Linked DNA regions of Homo sapiens: all the other regions are linked to region 3. The links come from fine-mapping of genetic effects on gene expression. A gene starts in region 3. Each other region holds a variant in brackets. All regions are shown on one strand. Distances are from middle to middle.

Region 1 (6,373 bases), 160 kb before region 3:
CGAGTTTAAAGCAAAATTCTATCAATTATCCAATATTTAAGGCATTCTGAGAAGTCCCCTAACTATAAAACCTTTCCTAATAAATTGGCTGCTGCTGAAGATTAAGTCCAGGCCCCTTGTGATCTCTAGGCTTTCATGCCTACACTGAGTCTGAGGGATCAGGGGCTGGTTAAGGAAGAGCCTGGGGGCTGAAGCAGTCTCTCTCCACTAGTCTGAAAGATAGTTTTTCCACAAGGGGGACACTGCAGACTACAGTTCTAGTGATGAGGCTGGTGCTCCTGCCCTGTTCCCCAGGGACTAAGGGGCAGGCAGGGTAAGGTCCTATAAAAACTAGGAATGAGCCGCCCTAGTCATTGTATTCTAGGGCAACCAACCTCACTGAACAGATGACTATGCCTTCATCTAGTGAATGGTCCTATTAACATGCCAACTGGGGCAACTTTTACTATCACGTTAAAACCCCACGTTTCTTGAAGGCACAAACAAAACACACTGGAAGAGATTAAATCTCGCTGCACTGAATCTGGAGTCACATTGTGCTGCCACATGATCAGTTTTATAGTCATTCTTCCTTCCCGAGTCTTGCCCAAGCAAATGGATCACAAATAAGCACGCTGCGTTAAAATTACATTACACCCTGCCTCTTATTATTGAATAATTTGGCAAATAGTATGCCTTAGTATCATGTGTGGGCTGTTACTCAGGGATCCCACATTTCTCCTAAGCCCTCTTGTCTATTCTCATATCTCACCTGAACACGTGAGCCAAGCTGACCAGCATGAGGGTTCCCCACTGCTCACCTTTAGCTGGTGCCAAATGGCAACAGTCCTGACCCTCAGGAATGACATGTGTGATGGGGAAGATTATTGGACTTGCAAATAAAAACCAAGTTCAGATCCCCAGGAACGGTAAAAACAAAACAAAACACACTAGACCTCATACATGTTCATATACATATTTATATATATCTCATGTACAAAGTTACATTCTGAACCCCAGGGATTCCATAATAGAAATAAATACTGAAATAACTACATTGCTAAATGAGCTCTTTGCTCATAGAAATGAAGCTCAGCCTCTAAGAGACAGCAAGTGGGACATTCTAGAACCCATTTTTCAGATTATAGAGGCAAGTAAAATTCTGATAGAATGTCTTGGACAAAAAACGAATTTGGAACATAAAATGGTTAAGATATATTCAAATAGAGAAATGTATGACAAAATTAATAAAACTTAATCTTTTAAGAGAAAAGACAGACATTTAGTGTTACAGAATAGCATAACCCTGTTAGAAAAGCATTTATGATTTCCACATTTAATTTTCTCTTCTACTCTTCCCATGTTACAAAGTGGGACCAAATGAGTCCCTTTCTGAACATGATCAATTAAGAAGAGCCCTAAATCTGGTTGAGTCCTTTGGTAACGGTCATAATACTCACAAGGAAATAAATATTCAGTTCCATGGCATTTGCAAGACACATGTTCTTTAGGACAGTTAATATTATGACACATCTGTTTTATTTTGTTACTAAGGCAGCCTATGTTAAAGGGTCTCGTCTCAAATGTAGGAAGACCTTTACAAGAAATGAACAATACAGTAACTGAAAGAATTGATTTTAACCTTTTCTATGCAAACACAATCTGAAAAGTTATGTGCTGCATATTGTGCTCAAAATGTTTTATACTCTCCACAAGCTGCAATTAAGAGATTCATTCCTATTTTTAAAATTTAGATCCACATGGGTTAGAGAAAAATACTCTCAAAAGTGAGTTCCTAGAGAATATTATCCCTTTGCCTCACAGAGATTTTAACCTGCATTTAAGAGTAAGTGTTAGGTTGAGGCATATGATATTGTCGCTTTTGCAGATCAGCAATGGTTGAACACTGGCAATTTCATATGGTTCAACCTTGCACATGACTCAAGTGTAAAAAAAGGAGAAACCTTCAAGTATTCCTTATTTCTTCCAATAGGGGTACACTTTTTTTGTACAGTGAGATCAACCCAAAGTACGCAAGCCTCTTCTCTCCCTTGATGTGGTAGCTACAGGCAGTTACATTCCTTTGCTGCTTGTGAGAAGCTTACATTTTGGCATTTTCTTCCAAAAATTACCACGTTGACCAAAGTAAACATTACAAGAATATGAACTTGTTATTGGGGGAAAGGGGAAGTGAAGCAATCTGTAGAAAATATTTAACTGAAATTACAAACATAAGGACAAGCCTTTAAAGCAAATTATACAGGCATTTTTGTCCTCTCTCTGGTCCCTGCAGTTAATTAACAGGGCCACAGATAATCTGACATCTTTAGATAAAACAACTACACACCTATATTACTTAAGTTAAAGCCAGTAAGTTCAAAAAAAGCAATTACAACCATTTGACATGTTTGTATTTTTCATCTCTAACTCCTGATTTCCTAAATTACATTCAGTCATACAAACATGGCTGAACAACAGCAAATGGGATCTGACTCTGGGATGTTTACTTCTTGGGATTAAAATTCCCAAACACTTTGGTGTCTCTTTCTTGTGAATCTATACAACATTTCCAATAAATGTTTAATAATGATTTTTTAAAAGATATTGCCAAAAATGGCTCAGATTTAAGATGAAATAAAAACATAGCAAACAAGCTATGGAAAAGTAGCCTACATTTTGGTGCCCTGCAAAAAAGTGACTAAGTAGCTCAAGCAAAAAATTATTCTTTTAATACAGCTTTTACCAAAACAGTTTTAATACATGAGTGGC[T/C]ACAATTTTATTGTGTACACAATGTGCTTATAGTCACATGTGGCCCAATGGATCCAAATGCCTCCTCTGGCTCATGAAATCCCATGTACTTCACAATCTAGCCTAATCGTGTATATGCATAAAAGCCACTGGTATACTTTTTACAGACATCTTTGTATAATAGTCCAGAAAAAAAAAATCAGTGGTACTTAAGAATGTTTAGACAATTTGACATCTACGTTTGCTTTCTTTTCTTTTCAGTAGTCCTTCTGATGATTGGGGGCCTTTATCCCATAGGTTTATACTGTTAAAACAGTACATAAAATTACATTTAGCTTTGCTTCGGACCGGCGCGGGGGCTCACGCCTGTAATTCAAGCACTTCGGGAGGCCAAGGCGGGTAGATCATCTGAGGTCAGGAGTTTGAGACCAGCCTGGCCAATGTGGTGAAACCCTGTCTCTACTAAAAATACAAAAATTAGCTGGGCAGGGTGGCACACACCTGTAATCCCAGCTACTTGGGAGGCTGAGGCAGGAGAACTACTTGAACCTGAGAGGTGGAGGTTGCAGTGAGCTGAGATCGCACCACTGCATTCCAGCCTGGGCAACAGAGCCAGACTCCGTCTCAAAAAAAAAAAAAAAAATCATATTTAGCTTTGCCTAGAGTAATAGATAAAAAAGGGTAAATCACACATTTTCAAGAAGCTTGAGAGGGAAAAAATTGCAGCATCGTGGTTTTAAAAAACTTATTAAGCAAGAAAATCAGTGAAATCCAGACTTTAATCTATTTTTTGCTTGTTTGTCTGTTTTGAGACAGGGTCTTGCTCCGTCACCCAGGCTGGAGTGCAGTGGTGCTATCAAGGCTCACTGCAACCTCCACCTCCTGGGCCCAGGTCATCCTCCCACCTCAGCCTCCCAAGTAGCTGGGACTACAGGCATGTGCCACCACACCCGGTTAATTTATTTTGTTTTTTTTTTTTGGTAGAGACAGGGTTTCGCCATGTTGCCCAGGCTGGTCTTGAACTCCTGGGCTCAAGCAATCCATCTGCCTCAGCCTCCTAAAGTGTTGGGATTACAGGCGTGAGCCACCATGCCCAACCTATTTTTTTTTTTTAATGGGCATTGTGAATGAAAATATGTAATGTCAACCTTTACTTTATGGTATCTTAGGTTTGTCTTCTTCCCCTTCATAGTTTTCCCCTTTGAGGATAACCCTTCAAGCTCAAAAGGGCACAAAAGCTAAAACGTTATTCACGTACAAAATACCAAGTATATAGCTGTTCTGCAGTTTGATACAGAACAAAAGAAAATAACTTTTCTAATTAAATCCCTCATTCTGTACTTAGGCCAGACTCCATCCCCACTACAGTTTTACTTGTATTAACAGGTTAAGAGCAATCTAGGAACATTTGGCAAACAAGTACATTTTTTACATGGAAAAAACTCAATCAACATCACCATTCTCTGGTACAAGAAATACAAAACACATTTCCTTTAAAAAATCCTCCCAGTGCTGAAGTATCTTCTAAGCTTCCCAGAGTATGTCCTAAGCTTTATAAATAATAAATCTTTCAGACATGTCAGTATGAAAATGAGACTGGTCTCAAAAAAAACCCATCAGAATATTCAGAGAAGTAGGCCTCATAAACTTTAGAGCTCTAATAAGTCAGAAACAGGAAACGTTTATTTAAATAGTGTAGTCTTAATTTCTTTAATATAAAACCCCCCCAAATCTGATGAAAACAAAGTTTTATATACCATATAAACAAGATTTGTCAGATTTGAAAGTGAAAGTTAAAGTAATTTACAGTTAGCTTTTAACCCTCTCGGGACATTTAGATACATCCTGATAATCCATCTTGTATTAGTGTGTGTCAATTTTACAATACACTGGGGAAAACTCAGCTATTGTATTTAACGGTACAGTTTCATTTATCAAGTGTTTCCCATTAATTCCATTATTAGTGACAGCTAACAAGTGACCCCATCAAATGAAGTGAATGACATTAGACTGTGGCAGAGTAAACCACATCTGGATTGCTTTCTATAATTCACCAGTTTGCAGGAAGTAAACATTCTTTGATTTGTTCATAATATACTGAAGTTACCTATAACACTGGTGCAGTAACACAGCTAGTTCCTCTGTATTGTTATGGTAGAACGGATTTTGTAATATAAAGTTAACAGGAAAAAATGCTCACACATTATGTGGTGAAACTTATCTCACAAAAGAGCATTAAATAAAAGGATAGAGGGAAAATAAACCATGCAGAAGAGACGGCTTCCCCATCTCCACCTGTTTCCCATGGGCTCACTCATTGCCATACATCACTTGCCACACTATCAAGTGACTCCTTTCTGCTTTGGTGACAGAAGGTTCAAGTGGAAGATCCTCTCCAAGAAGTTCTGATTCTCCACCTTCATCACCTAGTGAATGATAAGAAGACTCAAGTTAGGCTGAACACATAAAATATAGAATGATGTGAGTCAGATGTAATGCTCGTGGTTAGTCCATGAACAAGATGCCCAAAACTTGTCTGACTTTCACTGGAGAGTAAATAGTAGAAGAAATACTAAGAGTCAGAATCCTCACCCATATTCACCCAAGCCACTGCTTGACTTCAGAAAAGGTTAATTCATTTTTCAGACTGTATTTATAAAATCCAGTTCACTATACTACGTTAAAAAGCCACCCCAACATGTCTGCATACCGATGGTCCAGACATGGGAAGCTAAGAAGGCAATTCTGTGTTCATCCAAAATGAAGAGTCTACTGTCACTTATTTTAAACTAAGAACTGAGAATAGTGTTATAAAATGCGTGAGCACAGGTACAGAGCAAACTAACTAAACCCAAATAACTCACAATTATCAATGACAGGTGTAATGTTCTCCAATTGAAGATAATTGACACAAGCATATGGAAATTAAAATAATTAGCCTGCAGCACTGCAGATGGCAGATTCACCAGCTACTGGGTTTTTCTTCCAATGATTTTCAAGTTTAGGATAGGTTACAAATTAACAGTGTATAATGGAAAAGGAGAAACAAAGAGGTTGGGGTAGCAGCCAAGATACAGGTTCTTCTGCATCACGGCTAAGTGAATGTGATCCATGGTGTCCTGATCAGACACTGGCTTCCAAGGCCCAGTCTGGGGTACACCACACTCCTCTCCATAAGACCCAGTGCAGGGCATACCATAATTCTCGATACAAGCTTGCATCAATTGTATCTGTTGTCACAGAGCAGGGTTATTTTGGCACAACCCAGTGAAAAGTTGTCTAGTGGGATGGATTCTTCAGCAGAATCCTAAAAACATACACACCACAGGACCTAAAGATATATTCCACTGATCTAACAGAATTTTGTAATGTGCCCCATGTGAATTTCAGCTGGACAAAAGAAAATATTGATACTGTTGACTAGAAACAACAGAAGAGAAAAAACCCTAAATATCTGCATTTTTCTCTGCAGGCCAAACTTTCCCTTACCCAGCCCTGTAATGGCCTTTTCACAGCAATATCAAACTAGAGAGAGGAGAACACTCAGTTCAAACTCCCATCTCTGAACTGAAACATACCCAGGTGGTTAGAAGGTAAAAAAATTAAGTTTGGCTCTTAAATTTTAAAAAATTTCAATGAAAAAAAT
Region 2 (6,373 bases), 140 kb before region 3:
TTAATCACATCCACCTAGGAGTGAGGAAATGAGTCTCTGAGGTTAAGTGCCTTGCTCGAGGTTAGTGGCAGAGACACAGGGGCCAGACCCCCAGGCCTCCTAGTTCACTGCTTTTTCCTATTAAGCTGCTAAAGGTACCAGAGTGCATTCTCTCTTCCTCCATGCAGCCTTGATGATAGAAGCTTCTTTCTAGTGATTTCTCTTATTAGGTCAAGACCATTTTTGGCAATCCACGATGATAAAATAATACTACTGCTTTTCAAAAGTAAGCAAGTCTCCTAAAGAAAAATCAACAAATTTATCTTTGGGGGTGGGAGAGATATTCCAAAGTAACTTCATTCAAGTATCCCTATAGCACCTTAGTCACACCTCCATTACAGAACTTCCTTCGTATATATTGAAATTACCTGCAATTCGAGTACTTAGCCTTAGACTATTAGGTAGTGGAACCAAGAGATGACAGAAGAGAGACAATTACATGGAACATCTCAACAGAATAATCTAACATACCTGGGACTGCCACAAAGAATTTCACAGCATCCCGGTGCCCATGGAAGCAAAGCTGTGCATGTGCCATTGAACAATAGGGTATAAATGTCCCTGGAGTCACTTTATCACTGTTTTCATCACCATATACACGGATTACACTTCCAGGACGATTTCCTGGTACACCTGAGGTTTTATTTGCTGCAACAGAAAAACCAAATACCAAATATTTTCCCCTAGAAAACAGTAATGAATGTAAGAGGTTACTGGTTAATCCTTATGATATTATCTAAAAGCTACAGCCAGTTGAGATAAAACAAGGATGGCAATGCCAATTCAAGACAAAGCTGGGAAAAAAAGAGATACAGCATGCTAGTTATTTTTAAGTACCTCAGTAAATGGAGTAGGGGATTTTGCCAGTCTAGCAATAAGTAAGCTTATTTTTTAAACACATCTATTCATTTAAAAAATAATTTTAGTTAAAAAAAAAACAAATTTGAATCTTAGTTGTTTCTTGTTTTGTTTTTAATGCACATGTTAGAAAACTAACCATTATACAGTTTAAAGTAAATGGGTATATTTGCAAATAAAGTCTTTCTTTATAGTTTATCTTCTGATTTTTCTCCCTCACAGTAAGAATATTTCCCTTGAGGGGGTTGGTAAAAAGTTGTGCTTACAAGAATCCAGCCACTACAATAGAGCAGCTTTTATTGATACCAGACTGATGGTGTGCTGCGTACTGTAAAAGACCAGACTCACAAAACATCCCCATTCCATGGGCAAGTAAGTAAATGAAAGAAATATGATCGGTAACAAGAGTAAACGATGTAAATTAATGACAGCTTTAAGAGATGTTTCATGTTTATACTGGAAGGAAAACAAAGTCTGAAAGAAAGTTCAGCTGCAACAAAAGATGATAAATAGACTAAGCTGCTGAGCAGTTTGGTGGCCATGTAACAAACATTAAAAAAAAAAAAAAGACACCTGCTGCGATGCAGTGACTGCAAGTGGATAACATTTAGGAACATTCAAGAGGGTATTCTAGAGGAGTGGTAACAGCCTTACAGTGGCTATTAGAAGCCAGGAAGAAGAGTTTGGTTCAGAATCTGCACTTACCCCTCAGCCCCAGTAAACGTCCCTGGTGGAGGATTACGGCTAAAGTGAGAAAGGAGGAAAGGGGACATGGAGAGGTGCATGACAGGGAGGAGAGAATTACTGTGAGCCACCACTCTCAGCGTCTTCTATCTGGTAAACCTGGTGCTCAAAGCCCCTAACGAAAATAACAAGATCCCACTTGGCATAATACCAAGTAATACATAAAGTTCTTCCCAAGGCTTCTATTAGAATCTCTGCTGAAAAAGGAAAATCTGATTTATGGTGTTTTTTTTTTAAATAATAAAGCAATTTTAGTGAATCTGAATCAAAACACTAAGAACTCAATGTGCAGCATTTCCTAAATGCTAAAATTTCTCCTTTATTTCTCTGTGTGTGTGTGTTTTAAAAAACAAATCCTGTTCCAATAACTATGCTAAAATGAAGCTCTTACAAATAACTGAAATGAACTCTAGGGGATCCTGGAATCTCTTAGGATATAAGGAGAGGTCTAAATATGATTTATAAGTAACTGCAGAAAAGACAGGTGGGATTGAAACCTTGCTTTCTTTTAAAGGCTTCCGAAATACCTTCTAGTCTTTCTCCCTCCTCTGGCCTGAAAAAAGGTATGGTGATTTTGAAGTGTATATGTATTAATGTATTTTATAGACTTACAGTATTTGCTTTTAAACCATTCCCTGCCATGAATTTTGCAACACAAAAACATTTACTTAATGGATGATTAATGTAATGGAACATCATATGAGAAACACACGAGGTATATTTTATTCATAAAAACAATAAATCACATTCTTTTAAAATAGAAGATAGATGGAAAGGCTTGCTGAACTCCTGAGAAACTTCTTCCACAACTTTTTTTAAACCTCAAATAAGACAAATGGAATATACTAAACTATCTGCTAAGGAGATATGAAAAACTAAGATGAATGCTAGGTAGTGTTTTTGGATAATGGTATAATAAGGCTTAAGAAAAATGGACTTTAACTTTTATTTCAAAAGATGAAATAGGACTGTGATTCCTGAACTGTGAAAATGTTTTGACAACGAAAAACTTTTAATTATGAGTATTGGTCTTGATACATGAAAACTTATTTTCCTAGAATTTATAAGTTTCATTGAGTGAAGTAACTATAGCTAGATCTTTGCCATCACTGATTTTCTGAGCTAACACAGATTTGAATTTCAGACATAACTATTTCCTATAATTCTCCTATTTGT[T/C]CCATGGCAGTTATCTAAAAATATACTTACTTTCTGTCAATGGGATGGAGATAATGACACCATTTCCTGTCCCCACCCACAAACGATTACAAGACACCATAAGAGCTGTAATTCTCACAAAAGAGAAGCCCAGTTTTCCAGTACCTGTAAAGAAAGGAGGGAACACGTTATTGAGAAACTAAAGCAGACAGTGTTTTACATTCCAAGTTCCTTAGAAGTAGCAGGATTACAAAACAAAAAAAAAAGAAAGAAAGTAGTAGTAGCAGGATTGATACAACACAGAGGAAATGTGACTAGAGCTAGATGGATGTTTCCTGAAGGTTCACATCAAAGTAAGCTCATATTGGGGCTTATTGTCTATCTGACAATTCAGGGTTAATGGAAAAAGAAAAGCCTAAAAGTGGGTAACATAACATTATTAGTTAGAAGAAAAGTACACAGGAAATAGGATACATCAGGAACTGTGACACAGGATTTACTTAGGGAACTGTAAAACCAAACCAACACATAAAACAAAAAACCCCAACAGAAAACAGTGAAACTGGCAGGGCACGGTGGCTCACTCCTGTAGATCCTACAAGGTGGGATGACTGCTTGATCCCAGGAGTTTGAGACCAACCTGGGCAACAGACCTCACCTCTACAAAAAGTACAAAAATTAGCCAGGCATGGTGGCACATGCCTGTAGTCCCAGCTATGTGGGAGGCTGAGGTGGGAGGGTCACTTGAGCGCAGGAGTTTGAGGCTGCTGTGAACTGTGATCCAACCACTGCACTCCAGCCTGTGCAACGGACCAAGACTTTGTCTCTAAAAACAAACAAACCCAGATAAATCAAGTGTCCTTTGATCTTATAAGCTGAAAAAGTTCTGGTTTCCCTTAAGTTTTCTTTGCACAGATAAAAATCTTTGTAAACAAAATCTATACTTTTCCCCTCATTTATATACTTAGGTTCTAAAGCAGTTTAAACATTTTAAGTATTATACACAAATAATTTAGGGAGAACAAACGCATTTTTGTATTTCAAGTTAATTTTTACAACTGATCTTATTTTCAGTGACTTGAAAGACAAATTTATTGAGCAGGTAATACATTTAAGAAAGACAACACTAGTACTCATAAGTTCTACTTACAAGAACTGAGGGCATGATCGCTGAATCACAGTGTTAGAAGGAGGCTTAATTACCATTCAGCCTAACCTAGGAACCTTTAACCTCCAGTCAAAGTAGATCCCTGAAATTAGTTTGTGTTTGCATGTGTATATATTCTAGGGAGAAGGTACATAGCTAGAAATAAGGTTTTCTGAGGGCAGTAACTCTAAATGGTTGAAAACCACTGATCCAGTTCAATCATTTTTCATGAAAGGAATCCTTTATGACATTTCTAATAATCATTATAACACTAGGTCAGGTGCTAAAGATAGAGCAGGGAACAAGACAATGATGGTCCCTGATCTTCACGGGGCTTAGGGTCTGTAGGGGAGAGATTATAAACAAGAATCACATAAGACTGGTACGATCACAATAATGATAAGCCCATGAAGAAAAAGTATGACAGGACCTAAATGGTCTCTCCTGATTATGACAGTTAGGCTATGACCTGAAAGCTAAGTAAGTAAAAAGGGACCAAGAAGAACTTCCCAGGTAGATGATACAGCAGCACATGTGAGGACCCTGAAATGGGAAGGAGCTTGCTGAGCTGTGGGTCGGTATGAGCAAGGAGAGTGTTTGAGAACATGTAAGGTCTCCTGGTCATGTCACCTCACCTAAAGGCAACAGTGGAGGTGTGTGAAGGTAATATCTGCACCTTGGTTACTAGGCAGAGAACAGACTGGGGTGGCAACAGGGAGCCCAGTTAGGAGGCCTGGGGGTAAAAGGATAGTGGTAGAGATAAAGAAGTAACTGATTTAATACAGTTTTAGAGGCAGACTTGACAGTTCCCAGTGACAGATTAGATGTGGGAAATAAGAGAAGAGGAGTCCAAAATGATCCCAACTTTCCATCAAGAACAATAAGGGGCCAGGTGCATTGGCTCATGCCTGTAACACCAGCACTTTGGGAGGCTGAGGTCTGGGCCAATCACTTGAGCCCAGGAGTTTAAGGCCAGCCTGGGCAACACAGTGAAACCTCATTTCTACAGGAAAAAAAAAAAAAAGTAGCCAACATGATAGTGCAGGCCTGTCCAGCTACTGGGAAGGCTGAGGTGGGAGGATCACTTGAGCCCAGGAAGTCAAAGCTGCAGTGAGCCGTGATGGTGCCACTGCACTCCAGCCTAGGTGACAGAGTGAGACCCCGTCTTGAAAAAAAGAAAAAAAAAAAAAAAAAAGAGTAAGGTAGATTGAAACGTCTGACACTTTCAATGATAAAAGTTCACTACTCCTGAGATAACTTAATTCATTGGTTCTACCCAGCATTTTAGACTATTTAAAAATAAAAACAAGGACTGGGTGAGGTGGCTGTGCCTACCTACAGTCCCAGCTACTCCGGAGGCTGAGGTGAGAGGATCGCTTGAGCCCAGGAGTTCAAGGCTATAGTGTGCTATGACTGCACCTGTGCATAGCCACTGCACTCCATCCTGGGCAACAAAGCAAGACCTCATTTCAATAAACACATAGATAGATAAAATAAAACACCCTCTTTGACTGGTAAAGATAAAACGCGTTGGAAGCTTACCTAACATTTTGCTTACATAAGGCTCAATGTCCACATCCTGTAGATGTTGATAAGTGTGTGCATGATAGAGACGGAGCGTAGAATCCAAGCGAATGGAGACCCACACGCCATCCCCCACCCACGCAAGCTGTCGCACTTGGCTCTCCTTCCTGGGATGTGCATCAAAAGATTTCTAGGAGAGATTGTCCAATCACAAAGTTACTTTTGCTACATAGAATTTCATATTTAAAACTGTGCTAATTTGCACAAGTTAGCAGACTATTAAAAGACAAGCCCAAATATTATATATTAAACATGATTACTCTTATATACACAATTGTTTTCATCCTGGAATGCAAAAAATAAAGAACTAAGAACGGGATATTGGACTTCAGCACTATATAGGATATCACCTTATAACAGCAATACTAGCGCATCCACACTATGTAACAGTGCTCAACAGAAAGATTTTTTTTATTTCTTTATTTTTTATTTTTGAGACAGAGTCTTTACTCTTGTCGCCCAGGCTGGAGTGCAATGGCGCAATCTCGGCTCACTGCAACCTCCCCTTCCTGGGTTCAGGCGATTCTCCTTCCTCAGCCTCCTGAGTAGCGGGATTATAGGCGCACACCACCATGCCGGACTAATTTTTGTATTTTTAGTAGAGACAGGCTTTCATCATGTTGGCCAGGCTGGTCTCAAACTCCTGACCTCAAGTGATCTGCCCACCTCGGCCTTCCAAAGTGCTGGGATTACAAGCATGAGCCACCGCACCTGGCCTAACAGAAAGATTTTATCTCCGGATTTTGTGTTGTTGCAGAGCCACTGTGTTGAAATAAGATCACAATTATAATTAATCAGGCTGGGCGCTGGTGGCTCACACCTGTAATCCCAGCACTTTGGAAGGCC
Region 3 (5,000 bases):
TAAAGAGTGCTAACAAACAAGCGGAAATTGTGATCCTATCATTATTTGGTTTTTCATCCCTTCCTTCCCTATATGAAAGGAAAAGCTCTTGAAATAGTCCATTCTGGCGGGGTGCGGTGGCTCATGCCTGTAATCCCAGCACTGGGATGGTCAGCCCGAGGCCAAAGTGGGCAGATCACTTGAGGCCAGGAGTTCAAGACCATCCTAGGCACCATGGAGAAATCCTGTCTCTACAAAAAACAAAAATGAGCGGGGAGTGTTGTCCTAGCTCCTTAGGAAGCTGAGGCACAAGAATCGCTTGAACCCGGCAGGCAGAGGTTGCAGTGAGCCAAGATCACTCCACTGCACTTCACCCTGGGCGACAGAGTGAGACTACGTCTCAAAAAAAAAAAAAAAAAAAGGCAATTTTGTTTGGCAAATTCAATAGCATTCCTTTGAGAAAATTGGATCCCACAATCAGAACTAAAAATCATCACTACAGTCAAGCTTTTAAAAAAGGAAAAAGAACTATTTAACCAGATGCAAAGGTATACGTGACAAAATAAAACAAAAATTTAATGGTGTTACTATTCAGTGTCAGGAAATGAGCTACAAACCTCACATCCTAAAAACTCTTCAAGTCTTTTTGAAAAATACTATGTCATTCCTTCAATAATTAGTTATTTCGCCTCCTTTGATCACCATGTATTTAAGCAGGTGTGCTAGGTGCTTGAGAAACAAAAATAGGACACATCACCTGCCTTTGATAAGGTCCACAGAAATAACGCCAACGCAGGCTGAAAGCTAAACTCCTTGTCAGTCTCAAGAAGCCAAGGACCTATCACTTGCACCCTAGAACTCCAAAAGGTTCACAGAGTCGAGGTGAGGGCGCCCAGGTCACTGCTCGGGTGCTAGAGTTAACAGGTGGCCAAATGCACGTATAAACAGCAGTCTAAGAAGGAAACTCAGACGGAAAAAGTGTTGCCAACTGTCACCTACATCTTCCCAACCCCGCCCCCCAATCCTTTTTATAAATAAACGGAGGGTTTTTGAAGGGAACTGTCCAAGGTTACAACCTGATACGGAGGAATGCTTTGGTTTGGGATACCAACGAAATTGTTTATATATTTATTGAGTACTGCCACACAACATCTAAAAGTTGACAAAGTGTCAACCAAGGCACATAGAACATAAAATAAGACGTCTTTCTCAACAAGATTAAAACGTCAAGAAGAAACTGACCGAAAGAGGGAGATCTCTAACTTCCCAAAGCAAGGCAACCCCCTGGAAAGGTACTGGAACTAGCGGAAGTTACATATCCAGGGCAGAAGTGTCCCCCTCCCCAAGGGTAAAACTTTGAACCGCCATCTGACTATCCCACGGTGGTCGGAAACTTCCCTCAACAAGAAGCAACCAGACACCCAACAATCTCCGCCCTTGGCCAACCCCAGGTGTCCTCAGGCCAGGCTGCCGCTTCCTCCCCGGGCCCTGCCTCCTCCATCTCGCTCCCTTCCCAGGACACTCAGTAGCCGGCCTCGGCTTCCAACGCCGGCCTGGCTCCCGGGGTACCTGGAGGCCGCCGGGATCGGTCCCAGGGGGCATCGGCCTCAGGCCCGCCCTCCAGGAGGCCCGTCGCGCCTCTAGTCCCCGACCGGGCCGCGACCCCGCCCCGGCCGCCCCCGGAGACGGATCCCGCGGCCCCCGCCCTGCCGCCGGCCTCACCTCCTCAGCGTGCTTGCGCAGCGCCTTCTCCCGCTCGTACTGGGTGATGAGCTGCTCGTTGTCGTCCCGCAGCAGCTCCAGCTCCACCTGGTGCTCCTGGTCCTGCGCGAACACCGAGTCCAGGTTCTCCAGCACAGCCACCACCAGCGGCATCAGCTCTTTGACCACCTCCTCGTCATAGCGCCCGATAAGCCGCTCGAACTCGCGGTAGATGGAGCCGGCCAGGCCGGACACCCGCTCCGACATCACGGCCCCGGAGCCGCCGGGCTCCTCCTGATACACCACACCGTCCTCCAGCTCCATGGTGGCAAGCGGACGGGCGGGCGGCCCGGGGCGTCGCCGGCAGAGGGGCGGCACCTGCCCGCACGGGACGGACCCGACTCGGGCTGGGACGGGTACTAGGGCTGGAGCCCGGGCCGGGGCTGGGGCTGGGCCCGGCGGGGTGGGGGCCGGGGCCGGAGGAGGGGAGGGGTGGCGTAGGCGCTCTCACCCCAACCGCCGCTGCACCAACTGCCGGGGCGGCCCGGCCGCGCGCGCCACACGTCATCCGCGGGGCGGGGCCGGCGCCGCGTCGGCCCGATGGGCGGGGCGCCGCGGGAGGCCAGGCGCGGCCGGGGGCGGGGCCAAGCGTCTTCGGGCGCTGGCGGAGGAAGCCATGGCGTCAACACCCGGCGCCGCGAAGACGGTGCGGGCGCCAATGGGAAAGACTGCGGTCGGCGGGTGGGGAGAAGTATCCATCCACAGCGGGATTCGCGGGGCGGGTCCCAGGGGAAAGGGAGGGGTTCGGGAAGAGTGACGAGTTAACTTAGCTGGCATTTCTATGGCTTTTTAAAGCTCACAAAGCACCTACTCACTTCATCCCCACAACAGGCGTAAAGAGGTAGATATTTGGACCTCGTTTCACAGACAAAGAAACTAGGCCCAGGAAAGTGGCGTTGCTCTCAAGGTCACGCAGCTACAACGGGAAACGGGCTGAGCCGGGACTCAAACCAATTACCCAGATTGAGAATTCCGGGCTCCGAAAAAAACTGGAAACAGAAAGGGAGGGAAAAAAAACCATAACCAGGGTCTGCCCAAGTGGAAAGGTGGTCTCGAATAGAATAGAACTGTTTTGTGCTATGGAAGAGCAAGGGTGAGATGAGGGGAAATGGGAGTGACTGCTAATAGGTATGGGATTTCGTTTTGGGATAATAAAAATGTTCTAAAAAATGTATTATAGTGATGAATACACAACTCTAAATATGCTAAAAGACATTCAACTTTACACGTTAAGTGAGTGAATCATATGGCGTGTGAATTATATCTCAAGTTATTAAAAAATAAACAGGAAGGGTGATAGCATTCTGGAGAAGGGTGAAACTGGAACGTTACATGTGGCACTTTCCCACATAGTGTGTCTGCTACTTCTGGCCAACTTGGGACGGGGACATTTCCAGGCTCCAGCCACCCTCCTCTCCTCAAGTCTTGAAGTGGGGCGGAAAGGGTAAGTGGGAGGTTGGGGAACAGAGGAGGTAAGGGGTGGAGTCACTGGAGTGAATAAGTCCCATGACAAGTGAGGTTTCTGCCGCCTGGGAGAGTGTCACGTGTGGGGAATGACACAACGCCCACGCCTAGAGCGGGCTGAGTCAAGGATCCCGGTGTGCTCATCTAACGTCCGCAAATGGGACGGAAGACACTCTCAAAAGTCCCTTCTCTGTGTCTCAGGTGACTCAGCTCTCCGTCCCGACTCGTTTAAGAAAAGGGGGAGGAAAGGCAGGATAAACATAGGTTTAAGGGGAGAATTGGCCACCCACCGGGATCATAACTACCCTTAGCTTGGGGTTTACAAGTTTAAGTACTTCCCACCAAGTATGAAGTAGTCCCCTAAAGTTTCCTACGCATGACCCACCTGGAGACCCATAAAAACAATATGAAGGTTGGGCAAGAGTAAACCTATAAATTTGGAAGGACAAAGATGAAAATACTAAGTCTTATGAAGTGCCAGATGGGACTGAATTTGCGGCCTGTGTTTTTTCCCGTTCTCACCCTCACCCCACATTCACCCTTATGTCATTTAGATATTTGGGTAGTAGGAATGCCGACCAGCTGGTTGGCTGTGAGCCGCAAATGCCCTTTCTCTTCTTAACCTTTCATATTTGAAAACTAGAAAAAGTCTTGATCTGAATCTCTCCTCTTTTATTTTCTCTTCCTGAGGGCTGTCACTCACCTGGTCTACCTATATGCATGCCTCTCTTTTCCTGGGGGATCAGAAGAGCCAAAAAACATAGGGCAAGGCTTTACTTTTTCTTTCCACAATATTATCATACACATCAAAAAATTTAAAGAAAAAAGTATCAGCCGGGCGTGGTGACTCATGCCTGTAACCCAGCACTTTGGGAGGCCGAGGCGGGTGGATCACAAGGTCAGGAGTTCAAGACCAGCCTGAACAATATGGTGAAACCCCATTTCTACTAAAAAGTACAAAAATTAGTCGGGCATGGTGGTGCACACCTATAATCCCAGCTACTCAAGAGGCTGAGGCAGGAGAATAGCTTGAACCTGGGAGGCGGAGGTTGCAGTGAGCAGAGATCACACCATTGCACTCCAGCCTGGGCGACAGAGTGAGACTCCATCTCAAAAAAAAAAAGAAAAAAGAAAAAAGTATCGATTTTTCAAGTACGAGATTTTAATTGTCATTCCTAATAAGTATACTTCTTTAGGTATACGTTCAACATAGAAAGATACACACTTATGTCTTGATTTTAAGCTTCTGCCAGTTATCAGAGATAACATTTAGTTAAAATAAAATTCAGCTAAATAACCATCAGCTGATGAATGGATAAAATGTGACATAGGTATACAATGGACTATTATTTGGCAATAAAAAGAAAGTCGTTGGAGGGGAGGGGAGTAGGCGTGGTGGCTCGCGCCTGTAATCTCAGCACTTGCAAGAGGATGGCTTGTGCCATGAGTTGGAGACCAGCCTGGGCAACATAGTGAGACCTTCATCCCTGACAAAAAAAAAAAAAAAAATTTTTTTTGGCCAGGCACGGTGGCTTACACCTGTACTCCCAGCACTTTGGGAGGTCGAGGCGGGCGGATCACCTGAGGTCAGAGGTCAGATGTTCAAGATCAGCCTGACCAATATGGAGAAACCCTGTATCTACTAAAAATACAAAATTAGCCGGGCGTGGTGGCCCGCACCTGTATTCTTAGCTACTCAGGAGGCTGAGGCAGGAGAATCGCTTGAACCTGGGAGGCGGAGGTTGTGGTGAGCCAAGATCGAGCCATTGCACTCCAGCCTGGGCAACAAGAGCAAA
Region 4 (6,320 bases), 29 kb before region 3:
GGCGGACTTGGTGGCGGGCGCCTGTAGTCCCAGCTACTCAGGAGGCTGAGGTAGGAGAATGGCATGAACTTGGTCGGCAGAGCTTGCAGTGAGCCGAGATCGTGCCACTGCACTCCAGCCTGGGCAACACAGTGAGACTCCGTCTCAAAAAAAAAAATGGGAGGTGGGCACAGTTGCTCACGCCTGTAATCCCAGCACTTTGGGAGGCCGAGGCAGGTGGGTCATGTGGTCAAGAGATGGAGACCACTCTGGCCAACATGGTGCAACCCCGCATCTACTAAAAATACTAAAATTAGCCAGGCGAGGTGGCACCCGCCTGTAGTCCCAGCTACTCGGAAGGCTGAGGCAGGAGAATCACTTGAACCTGGTAGGCAGGGGTTGCGGTGAGCGAGATTGCGCCACTGCACTCCAGCTTGAGCAACAGAGGGAGATTCTGTCTCAAAAACAAAACAAAACAAAACACACACACACAAAAAAAAAACAGAAGTTGGGCCAGGCACGGTGGCTCATGCCTGTAATCCTAGCACTTTGGGAGGCCGAGGCAGGTGGACCACCTGAGGTCAGGAGTTCGAGACCAGCCTAGCCAACATGGTAAAGCCCTGTCTCTACTAAAAATACAAAAATTAGCTGAGCCTGGTGGTGGGCACCTGTAATCCCAGCTACTTGGAAGGCTGAGGCAGGAGAATCACTTGAACCCAAGAGGTAGAGGTTGCACTGAGGTGAGACTGTGCCATTGCACTCCAGCCTGGGCAACAAGAGTGAAACTCTGTCTCAAAAAAACAAAAAAACAAACAAACAAAAAAGAAGTCGACAGGTGCACCGAAATCTCGGAAATCACCACTAAAGAACTTATCCATGTAACCAAAAACTACCTGTTCCCCAAAAAATATTGAAATAAAATTATATATATATAATTATAATATATATGTGTATATCTACTTATTATATGTATATATATACACTTTATTTTATATATATATATATATATATATATATATATATATATATATATACACATACACACACACACTTTCTTTTTTTTGATATGGAGTCTCGCTCTGTGACCCAGGCTGGAGTGCAGTGGCATGATCTTGGCTCCCTGCAACCTCTGCCTACCAGATTCAAGCAATTCTCCCTGCCTCAGCCTCACGAGTGGCTGGGATTACAGGCACCCACCACCATGCCCAGCTAATTTTTTGTATTTTTAGTAGAGACAAGGTTTCACCATGTTGGCCAGGCTGGTCTCGAACTCCTGACCTCAGGTGATCCACCTGCCTTAGCCTCCCAAAGTGCTGGATTACAGGCGTGAGCCACCGTGCCCGGCCATATATACTATTTTTTTAAAAAAGAGAGAAGTCATTTTAGCTTACTCTAAAAGGAATGGTTTGCCTAAAACCTTTACTGAGATAAAGACATTCCAGGCAGAGGTCACAGCACATGCAAACGTCTAAAGATCATGGCATGCCCAGGTAACTACAATTCACCATTAAATTTTGAGTCGATGTAAAGGTAAACTATAAACTAAAGAATAAGTTGAGAATCTCTCTGATTCACAAAGCGAGTAAAAAAGACAAGTAAGATTCCACTTGGCCAGGTGCGGTGGCTCAAGCCTGTAATCCCAGCATTTTTGGGAGGCCGAGGCAAGCAGATCATGAGGTCAGGAATTCAAGACCAGCCTGGCCAACATGGCAAAACCCCATCTCTACTAAAAATACAAAAATTAGCCAGGTGTGGTGGCAGATGCCTGTAATCCCAGGTACTGGGGAGGCTGAGACAGGAGAATTGCTTGAACCTGGGAGGCAGAGGTTGCAGTGAGCCGAGTCCAGCCTGGGCAACAGAGCAAGACTCCATCTCAAAAAAAAAGATTACATTCATCCATCTTTTCAAAACACAACTTGAGCCCCTATTGTTTTAAATATTCCAAGGTACTGGGAAATGTAGTAAGTTACAAGAGAGCCCTATGTTCTATTGATTGAAATTTAACAGAAGATGAAAGGTCTTAATCATGGGTAATTACATTTTATAAAAAAGATCGATTTACAAAAGATCTTGCATAATTCAACAGTCACCTAATTGAGGTTAAGGCTGATAAGAGATGGCTGATATTTCTGTTACTGCCTAGGTAATACCAACATAGGATAACAGCACAACATTGGTTTACAGCTCAGTCAGGCTTTCATATAACATGATTTCTGAAGACTTTCTGAAATGAGAAGGTAACATTTCAAACTCTGAATATGAAATGAAACTTTTAAAAATCACATAGTTCAAGTCTGCATATAATGTAACCACACTGAAATTACATATGTGAACAAGAAAAAGCACAGGCCAGGCACGGTGGCTCATGCTTGTATAATCCCAGCACTTTGGGAGGCCAAGGAGGGCTCATCACTCAAGCTCAGGAGTTCGACACCAGCCTGGGCAATATGACTCTGTCTCCACGAAACCCTGTCTCCACGAAAAATATGAAAATTAGCCTGGTGTAGTGGTGTGCATCTGTAGTCCCAGCTACTCAAAGGCTGAGGTGGGAGGGGATCACCAAGCCCAGGAGGCAGAGGTTGCAGTGAGCTGAGAGTGAGCCACTGCACTCCAGCCTGAGCGACGGATCAAGACCCTGTATACAAAAAAAAAAAAAAAAAAGGAAATGAATGCTCATAAAAAGTCTAGGATAGTCATTAATGATTTAATGTGACTTAATTGCTTGCCAGTGGCATGACTTTATAAGTTGGTCACCCTCTACTACGCTTGGCAAACCTTAGAATAACCACGATAGGGTTAGGCCAACAGCAAAATCGTGGCAGGAGAAGCGCAGCAGTTTTTTTTGTTTGTTTTTCTGTTTTTTTGTTGTTGTTGTTGTTGTTTGCATATTATAAAACCACATTAGCCCTGGAAATTCCAGAGAGTCCCCTCAGCACAAGCATTTGTCAGATCACTCAGGTATGTTGGTATGAAACGCACATACTCCTCCCCTTTTCTGTTTTTCTCACACACATACCCACTTTTTTTTAAGGACTAGGGGGATTAAGGGCCTGTGAATGAGCTTTTTCAGCAGGTATAATAACACATCTTCACTAAATACCCCTCTTCCCTTTCAATAACTAATAGGCCAGCAACAACATTAAAGTGACTTCAGACAACTCTCCTGGGAGCAACTAGACACCGTTAAAAAAAAAAAAATCAGTGGACAATACAGACTTATGTCAGGATCTAAAAAGAGTAAGCTTTGTGATGAAGCAAAATGCTTTTAAGTCCAGATGGCTTATAGGGACTGTTTCGCCCCACTGTTCTGGGGAAAAACAAATGAATACTTTGAAAAGACAAGCTCCCAAAGTTAAAAAAAAAAAAAAAAAAAATTCCCTAAAGGTTGTTGCTTGTTGGAGTAAAGATGCAGAAGAAAAAAGAAAGAAAAGAAAAAGAATAGCCATTTAAATACTTTGACTATAGTACTTGTCTAAAAAATAGTATCAAATAAAGGGCTGGCTTATTAAGTGTCCATCAAGATATTATATTAATTAGTTAAATGTAATTGTTTTTAAATGTAATTTCTTTTAAGAAATAAGACAGGATTGAAGACCATATTAAATAACACTCAAGGGATATAATCCCTTCCAAGTCCAAAATGTGGAAAATTTTTTAACACAAATGATTTGGTTTCTTCTACAATAAATGTCAAGTGGGGAAAAAAAGAAAAAAAGAACCATTATATAAAGAGGAACTTGAGACATATTGAACCAAGTATAAATGTATAGACTCTCTTGTTTAGATACTGATTGAAAACAACCAACTACAAAACTACATTTAAGAGACAATTAGGGAAATATGAACACTTATTAAGTATTAAATATTATTAAAGAGTAATTGTTTATAAGTTTTAGATGTGTTAATGGTGTTGTGGTTATATTTGTTAAACAGCCCTATCTCCTAAAGATACAATGATATAGTCTTTGGTCTGCCTTAATATTATGGTGAAAAATTGGTTTGGCCAGGCACAGTGGCTCACGCCTGTAATCTCAGTGCTTTGGGAGGCAAAGGTGGGAAGATCAC[T/C]TGAGGCCGAGAGTTTGAGAACAGCCTGGGGAACATAGAGAGACCCTTGTCTCTACAAAAAAAAAAAAAAAAGAAAAAAAGAAAAAGAAAAATTTAGCTGGACGTGGTGGCAGACACCTGTAGTTCTAGCTACTCAGGAAGCTAAACTGGGAGGATTGCTTTAGCCCAGGAGTTCTAAGCTGCAGTGAGCTATGATCACACCACTGCACGCCTGCCTGGGCTACAGAGCAAGCAAATGTCTCTTAAAAAATTTTTTTTTCTAAAGAAAAAATATTGGCATTTTGTTGGTAACTGCTGAAGTTGAATGATGGGTATATGGGAGTTCAAATATATTCTACTATTCTCGGTAATCATCAATGTTTAGATATTTCTGTAAAAAAAAAAAAAAAAAAAAGTTGGCCAGGCATAGTGGCTCATGCTTGTAATCCCAGCACTTTGGGAGGCTGAGGTGGACAGATTGCTTGAGCTCAGGAGTTCGAGACAAGCCTAGGCAAAATAGCAAAACCCTCTTTTTAAAAAAAACAAAAAAATGAAAATAAATTATTGGAATAAAAGTATCAGTGGTGTTTAATATGAAAAAAGTTTGTCCTGCCATTAAAAAGCAAATATGCAGAAAGGGGCATGTACAAAGACATTCATTGAAGGGCTATTTGTAACAGTTCACAACTGGAAGATAACTTAAATGTCTATCAACAGACAGTGGATAAGAAAATTATAATAGATCTGGCCAGGCATGGTGGCTCACGCCTGTAATCCCTGCACTTTGGGAGGCTGAGGCGGGTGGATCACAAAGTCAGGAGATCGAGACCGTCCTGGCTAACATGGTGAAACCCCGTCTCTACTAAAAAAATCAGCCAGGCGTGGTGGCGGGTGCCTCTAGTCCCTGCTACTCGGGAGGCTGAGGCAGGAGAATGGCGTGAACCCAGGAGATGGAGCTCACAGTGAGCCGAGATTGCGCCACTGCACTCCAGCCTGGGCGACAGAGCAAGACTCCGTCTCAAAAAAAAAAAAAAAAAAAAAGAAAATTATAACAGATCCATACTATGGAAAGTATGTAATAGAAAACTGGTGTGGTGTGTGAGGGTGGGACTGAAAACAGGAGGGTTGAGTGGAAGTCTAAAATCACTAGTTAGTAATATCCCTAGTAGGTAGACAGTCCCACACCAGACTGGCCAGGTGGCCTTCCTTGCTCACCCACACAGGAAATAAGAGGTTTGTTTTCTCAATAAACTCAACCAGAAATTTTAGACTAGGAACACTCTAGGCACAGCCAGGCAGGTGCCAAATGACAAGTGGAATTACATGAAGGTCTAAAGTCTACGTACTAAACAGTAATAGGGCCTCCTTCCTGCCTTCATCCAGGTTGCAATAATGTAAATATCTAGGCTTACCTACCACTCCACCAGCCACACCTCAAAGAGACTATCCTTCTCTGGAAAAACTCAAGTGTCTCTACGAAAGGACCATGGGATATTGAAATCTGGGTTGCCAAGAGGCAGTAAACTGTATCCAGGCACACAAAGCTTCCAACCCTCCTTTTTTAGTGTCTCACTTTTAAAACATGAAGGATAATTAAGAATTATAAGGCACTTTAAGTTCTAGCCTGAAAGAGAGAAACCAAAACTATAAGAAATAAAAATGGGACTCTGACAAAACAGACAAAGCAGGGAACAAATGAAAACTATAATTAATATACTCAGAGACCAAAGAAAAGTCATTGCTCCCATGGAACCAGAATAGTATGCTATTTTTAAAAGTAGTGAGGAGGGAAACAAAACAGGAAAGAGCACTTGGAAATTATTAAAGTATGAATTGACGAATCCAGCACTTTTTGTCTTTCTTATATACAAACTATACCTTAGGGTAACCAAACAGTTGATGAGGGGAAGTTTCCTTTACAAGAAAATTTAGCTGATAAATGTTGAAGGAATAACTGGATTGAAATAGCACCATTTCCCAACCCCTAATGATATAATAAGGAATATCCAGTTTTCCAGGTTGTCTCATATATGTTTTTACACTCAAGATCCAAACAAGGTTCATACATTACATTTGGATAATATATCTCTTAAGTCTCTTTTAAACTCTGGATTCCCCAAGTAATGATCCTTTTCACCTAAGTGATGATCCTATAATGGAATACTATAAAACCATTAAAAATATATAGCTATGTACTTCCAGACATAGTTTGTGCCAGTTATCAGTGAATGAAACTGAATAGGCAATTCACAGAGAAGTAGAATCACCAGTAAATGTAAAACATGCTCAAGCACACT
Region 5 (6,373 bases), 63 kb before region 3:
GTAAATACAATCTTTGTAGCATTAATATGCTTACTGTATACAGAATACAATCTGTGTGGATATTCTCCAAAACATGATTTTAAATTGTTTTATGATTATAGATTATAAAGGTTTTTATACTCTTCTAAAGAAAAACAACAACATAGTTTCTACCAGACGCAGGATAAGAGATCACACAAACTAGGGAGAAAAAAAAACAAACAAAAAAACGGGCTAAGACTGGAACCATATGTATCATGGGAAATATAGGACTAGCAAGGGGAAAGAGAGAGGAATTATTTTTTTCATGTAACAAATATTGTATAAAACTATAAAAATTATATTTATCTGGGTATGTGAAACCCAGACTGACCATGACATACAAAAATAATTTTCACATTAAGATAACAGAAACAAAAGCAACATGAAAGGCTGACAGGGAATCATAAAAAGGTTAAAAAACCCTCAAGTACATTTTCTAATTTCCTTTGAGGAGACTGTGCTGAAACTGTTAATTTAAAATACTGAAAACTCATGCAAAAAACCTACTTTTGAGTTATTTTAACACATTATAATTTGTGCTTATATTATTTGTTATGAGCTTAATGCAAATAAGTCCTTTACAATGGATAATAGATGTAGAGACCCTTTACCAATAACTTACCAATCCATAATTTCCAAACTCATAAAAAAACAAATCAGTTCTCTCATCTAAGCATCACAGAAACTTCATTATGTGCACATAGGTTTTTGCTTAGCCAGCCAAGGAGAGAAGTACTATAGCTGCCTTAAATAACTAAATTATTCTGTAGCATACTAATTCACCCCATGAAAAGCTAATTCCAAGAAAAGTTGACATTTGGTAACTAGGTAAATGCCACATGAAATTTAATGTTTTCTTGAAAGAATCCCCAAGAATTATTCTTTTTTAAAAAATTCTGATTTTCAAAGAAAAATTAAGACATATTTTCTAAGGTTCATTTCTTTGTCTCAATAATAGCATGGTAATGAAAAACCTAGAAACCCACCTCAGTGTGTCTTTGATGTAATGCATTATATTCCTTCTTCAGTTCTGCTTCTCTTTCTTCAAGTCTGCTAACTGAAATTAAGATACATACACTTGATCAAAACAAAATAAGAAATTTACTTGAAAAAGTACATGTTAGACTCAGAATGGGCTATCCATAATCCTTAGCAACTTTCAGACTCAGTGTTCCATATGCAAGTCTTCACAAAGCAGTGACCTCATTTCATTATCCTTAATAATGAAAACTTTCAGACGAGCGGAATACCTTAGATTGGTTCTCTAATATTCCTATATTTATCAGGTCATCCCCCTAAACAGTTTTTTTTTTAACATGATACAGAATTAACTCTTTCAAAAACACAAATCACCTCATCAAAGTTTTAAACTGGGATTAGGGCCCAAATAATGTATTTCCAACACTACTCAAGCTCTTTAGCACTGGCAGTTTGTGAAAGTTGATTGTTTATAAGTACTTTTTCTGCTTCAGGTCTCCTCAATTTCAGGGACTCATCTTCTTTTATTTAGCTCCCTCTGCTGATGGGTTTTGTGAGTGGCACTGACTTGAGGTAGTGCTCACAGAGTACAACTTCAGGATATTTAAAAAAAAAAAGTTTTATTAATAGATCCTGAGATACAGAATGTCAGGACAGGATTCCACAGGAAAGAATAACTGATAGCAAAGAGGAATGATTCAGGGAGGAGGTGGTGTCCACACAGAACCACAAAGGAAGAAATTACAGTACTCAAGACAGATGGTAATGAGAGCATTCCTGACACTGTTACCACAGAGAAGGGAACACAAAACCATGCCTGTGGTGAGGCAGAGGGTGGTGGTGAGGCAGAGGGGAGACTGGCCAGACTGGAGGAGCCCATACTTGGCTAAGGAGCAGTGGGAGACAGTCTGGGGAGAAATAAAGCTGGTGCTAGAGGAGTTTATCAGGGTACTCATTTAGTCTGTTGGAAAGCCTTAGCATAGTTGAAAATGTTCCCTGGGTTTAAGGGTCAGCTGGCCGCAAACAGGCAAGGCTGTGTGTAATCTACAACTGGTGACTGTGGAGGACAGCTGTAGAAGGAACTAGTATGAACTAATATTCTGACAGCAGATAAATGAATGTTTTATATGCCTCCTAGTATTAACACACCAGACACCAAACAAAACATACCTTGTGCTGCCCAGAAAATTCATTTTGGGTTTGTGTACCTTTACTTGCCATAATTTGTTTAAATATCTTGAAAATATGTGATTAGGAAAACTGTAGCTGTCTTTGTTTTGATTTGTTTCTAATTCAAGCTTATGTGTCGCTGGCTCATTACATTTGCACCAGAGAGCAAACACACACTACAGTACCCACGGAGCACATTTTATCATGCCACACAAGTGTTGAATACATCTGCTGCTCATCTTATCCTGTGGCTGAAAGCGATAATAAGCAAATTTATTATGCAGATGTGTTGTGATAAAATAATAGATGCTAAAACCACAAATTAATTTTTAATAAAATTTAATTCTATGATTTTTATTTAAAAACAGGAAATCCAAGCAAATTATGGATATTTAATAATTTCAAAATAAACATTTTCTACTACTTGTCATTTAAACTGATTAAAAGCTTAAAGGAATTCTGAGACTACTGGACAAACCATATCTATTTTCAATTGTTCATCTTTTTGAATCATTATTTTCTTGATAATGTGCAACAAAAACAAAAATTGGATGCTGA[G/C]GCTGAAATAAAATCCAACTATCATTCATAATCCTCAATTTCAAATTTGTGCTCAATAGTAGAGCCTTATTATTCTTGTCAGCTGATATAAATTCATAAATAAATTTGTATCACCAACACCACCACTACTAATAGCAGCCAACAACATCAAGTGCTTACTATGTACCATACAGTCCTAAGAACTGCATATAAACTAACTTATTTGAGCCTAACATTAACCTTACGATGAAAGTATTATTATTACATCCATGGTAGAGATGAGGAAACTGAAGCAAATAGGAGCTAAGTAACTTGCCCAAAGTCACACAGATAGAAAATGGCAAAGCAAGGATTCCTATCAGAATCTGGCTCCAGAATCTGTGTTCTTAATTACCATGCTATACTGCTTCTCAGCAAATACTCATTTTAATCTGTTTTGTATATTGGAGTTTACTTTAAGATATCACTTTGGGCAGAGGGGAGTATGCTTCAAACAAAAAACTCCTCTGTTCTTACAGAAACAACCCATTCACAGATACTTTGATACAAAGGGCATCAAACTGCCAAGCAAAATGTGTACCCAAGTCAGGGAGATGCACATTAAAACCAAAATGCAACACCACCATGCTTCTGAATGGCTACAGTGAAAAACACAACACACCAAGTGCCAGTATGGATGTGGAACTACTGGAACTTTCATAAACTGTGGTGTATGGTTTCATACACCGTAACTTGGTATGCCCAATTTAAGAACTGTTTGGCAAGATTTAGTTAAGTTTCGAATGTTTGCCAACCCTATCACAAAACAATGTCATTGCTAGAAAGCCTATATATATGTCCACCCAAAGGTATTTAAAACAATGTTCAAAGAAGCACAATCTGAAAACAATCCAACTGTCCATCAAGAGTAGAATGGATAAATATTCATGTACTGGAATACTGTACAACGTGAATAAACAAATTATTGCCACACACAACATCATGGACCAATAGCACAAATATGATATTGAAGGAAAGAAGCAGAAACAAAAGAATACAAAATTCAAAGACATAACACAAAACTAATCTGAAATGTTACAAGTCAGGATAGTAGTTACCTCTGGGGAGGAGTCAGTGATCTGATGTATTTATGCCTGTATAGCCCCAGCCCACCTCAGTTCAAACACGATGTGCATCCATTCACACAGGCACTTTCCTCTGCTTGAATACTCATTCTTCCTTATGTTATCCTACAATGGCTATGAGTTCAACATGTAGAATGGGATTTAAACAAACTATTCAGAACCATAACAAACAAGCTTTATTGCTCTGACTGTAGCATTCTCAGGGAGAGAACAAAAATGTTACCGAATAGACTGGATAAAGAAAATTTGGTGGGTCACGCCTGTAATCCCAGCACTTTGAGAGCCGAGGTGGGCGGATCACAAGGTCAGAAGTTCGAGAACAGCCTGGCCAACATGGTGAAACCCCATCTCTACTAAAAATACAAAAACTAGCTGGGCGTGGTGGTGCATGCCTATAATTCCAGCTACTTGGGAGGCTGAGGCAGGAGAATCGCTTGAACCCAGGAGGCAGAGGTTGCAGTGAGGCAGAGGTTGCAGTGAGACAAGATTGCGCCACTGCAACTCCAGCCTGGCGACAGAGTGTGACTCCATCTCAAAAAACAAACAAACAAACAAACAAACAAACCAAAAACCAGAATCTCACCACTTTTACCACCTTCATCACTCTCACTTTGACCCAAGACATCATCTCTTGCTTAGGTTATTACAATAATAATCCTAGTCTCCTGACTAGTTTCTCTACTTAGTCTTTGTTCCCTACATTCTCAAAATAGAGATGGAATCAAACAGTGACTAACCGCTCAAAACTTCAAAGCTTCCGATCTCATTTTTAAAAGGAAAAAAAAATTCTTACAATGGTCTGTAAGACTTTTCTGGATCTGATTGTCAAGTCACAACACTCTTTGCTTCCCATCCCCACAGAGAACTCTTATCTCCTGACCTATTATGGACTGAATTGTGCTCCCTCACCCCCCAAATTCATAGGTTGAAGCTCTACCTCCCAATATGACTGCATTTGGGGGATAGGGCCTTTAAGAAGATAATTAAGGGCCGGGCGAGGTGGCTCACACCTGTAATCCCAGCACTTTGGGAGGCCGAGGCAGGTGGATTACCTGGGCAAGAGTTCGAGACCAGCCTGGCCAACATGGTGAAACCCTGTTTCTACTAAAAATACAAAAATTAGCCAGGCGTCATGGCAAATAGCAGTAATCCCAGCTACTCGGGAGGCTGAGGCAGGAGGATCGCTTGAATCTGGGAGATGGAGGTTGCCGTGAGCTGAGACTGTACCACTGCACTCCAGCCTCGGTGACAGAGCGGGACTTTGTCTTTTTAAAAAAAAAAAAAAAAAAAAAAGGCAGAAGAAGGTAGGTAATTAAGGTTGAATGAGGTCATTAAGGTGGGGCCCTGATCCAACAGGGCTGGTATCCTTATAACAGCAAGAGATAGGCAAAAGGCCATATTAGGACACAGAGGTAAAGCAGCCACCTGCAAGCCAAGGAGAAAGGCCTCAGGAGAAACCAAATCTGCTTGTACCATGGATCTCAGATTTCCAGCCTCCAGACTGTGAGAAATAAATTTCTGCTATTGAAGCCACCCAGTCTGTAATATTTTGTTATGGCGGCCCTAGCTGACTTATACCATTAAGCAAACCTCAGAGAAAAGGGTTTTTTTTGTTTTTTTTTTTTTTCCTTGAGACAGAGTCTCACTCTGTCCCCAGGCTGGAGTGCAATGGTGCGATCTCAGCTCACTGCAACCTCCACCTCCCTGGTTGAAGCGATTCTCCTGCCTCAGCCTCCCTGAGTAGCTGGGACTATAGGCGTGCACCACCACATCCAGCTAATTTTTGTATTTTTAGTAGAGATGGGGTTTCACCATGTTGGTCAGGATGGTCTCGATCTCCTGACCTCGTGATCCACCCACCTCGGCCTCCCAAAGTGCTAGGATTACAGGCGTAAGCCACCGCGCCCCACCGAGAGAAGCTTTTATATAAGATGTTTGTCAACTGACTTGGTCAGAGAGCTGGGTTTATACCTTACAGAACAAAACATTATAATGCCACAAAACAAAGTCAGGTCCTGACTGATTTTATGCCAGTTTCCTAATCAATTTGTTTGCATTGCTTTGTGTCAAATGTACACCACTTAATAGTGAGATTAGGCCAGGAGCGGTGGCTCAAACTTGTAATCCCAGCACTGTGGGAGGCCAAGGCGGGCTGATCACCTGAGGTCAGCAGTTCGAGACCAGCCTGGCCAACATGGTGAAACCCCTCTACTAATACTACAAAAATTAGCTGGGCATGGTGGTGCACGCCTGTAATCCTAGCTACTCAGAAGGCTGAGGCAGGAGAATCACTTTAACCTGGGAGGTGGAGGTTGCAGTGAGGTGAGATCACAACATTGCACTCTAGTCTGGGCAACAAGAGCGAAAGCTCTGTCTCCAAAAAAAAAAAAAAAAAAAAAAAAAGGCTTGTGGGAAGGAGACATATAACAGAATATACCATTAATTTTGGGAGATTTCCAATATTTATCTAAATGAATATGACCATTGTTCACATAAGCTTAGGTTCATCCATAAAAATTCCTTAAAGTTCTAGTAATCATTTT

Which allele goes with the higher level. Positions count from the first base shown, and alleles are read on the strand shown. Sizes are in standard deviations (SD) of each study's normalised expression. Not every link is listed here.
As copies of T replace C in region 1, the expression in monocytes after LPS of the gene that starts at base 2,216 in region 3 goes up (large effect, 1.6 SD a copy in Fairfax 2014).
For the expression in tibial nerve of the gene that starts at base 2,216 in region 3, allele T in region 2 goes with a lower level than allele C (small effect, 0.20 SD a copy in GTEx).

Evidence for each region. PIP is the estimated chance that this variant, and not a neighbour inherited with it, causes the effect.
Region 1: its variant is fine-mapped to the expression of SPAG9 in monocytes after LPS (Fairfax 2014, PIP 0.91).
Region 2: its variant is fine-mapped to the expression of SPAG9 in tibial nerve (GTEx, PIP above 0.99). The same link has a PIP of 0.9 or more in blood mononuclear cells, subcutaneous fat, sun-exposed skin and thyroid.
Region 4: its variant is fine-mapped to the expression of SPAG9 in whole blood (TOPMed, PIP 0.96).
Region 5: its variant is fine-mapped to the expression of SPAG9 in whole blood (INTERVAL, PIP above 0.99).

What each region holds. Positions count from the first base shown.
Region 1 is chr17:50,961,235-50,967,607 of GRCh38, forward strand. SPAG9 (sperm associated antigen 9) reads right to left here. Exons shown (of 30, transcript NM_001130528.3): 30 at 940-5,153. The coding sequence ends at 5,038. Among named protein-coding and RNA genes, the nearest start is that of TOB1-AS1, 98 kb to the left of the region's middle. The variant T/C (reference allele first, on the strand shown) is at 2,749.
Region 2 is chr17:50,974,261-50,980,633 of GRCh38, forward strand. It overlaps SPAG9 (sperm associated antigen 9), which reads right to left. Exons shown (of 30, transcript NM_001130528.3): 26 at 5,486-5,657; 27 at 2,848-2,961; 28 at 511-687. Among named protein-coding and RNA genes, the nearest start is that of TOB1-AS1, 110 kb to the left of the region's middle. The variant T/C (reference allele first, on the strand shown) is at 2,818.
Region 3 is chr17:51,118,653-51,123,652 of GRCh38, forward strand. SPAG9 (sperm associated antigen 9) reads right to left here and starts at 2,216. Exons shown (of 30, transcript NM_001130528.3): 1 at 1,702-2,216. The coding sequence starts at 2,004. RefSeq lists silencers at 1,469-1,598, 1,619-1,698, 1,949-2,328 and enhancers at 1,729-1,848, 2,138-2,952, 2,469-2,698, 3,308-3,567.
Region 4 is chr17:51,088,652-51,094,971 of GRCh38, forward strand. The region is part of intron 1 of SPAG9 (sperm associated antigen 9); the gene reads right to left. Among named protein-coding and RNA genes, the nearest start is that of SPAG9, 29 kb to the right of the region's middle. RefSeq lists a silencer at 5,197-5,491. The variant T/C (reference allele first, on the strand shown) is at 4,045.
Region 5 is chr17:51,055,405-51,061,777 of GRCh38, forward strand. SPAG9 (sperm associated antigen 9) reads right to left here. Exons shown (of 30, transcript NM_001130528.3): 3 at 1,008-1,078. Among named protein-coding and RNA genes, the nearest start is that of SPAG9, 62 kb to the right of the region's middle. The variant G/C (reference allele first, on the strand shown) is at 2,728.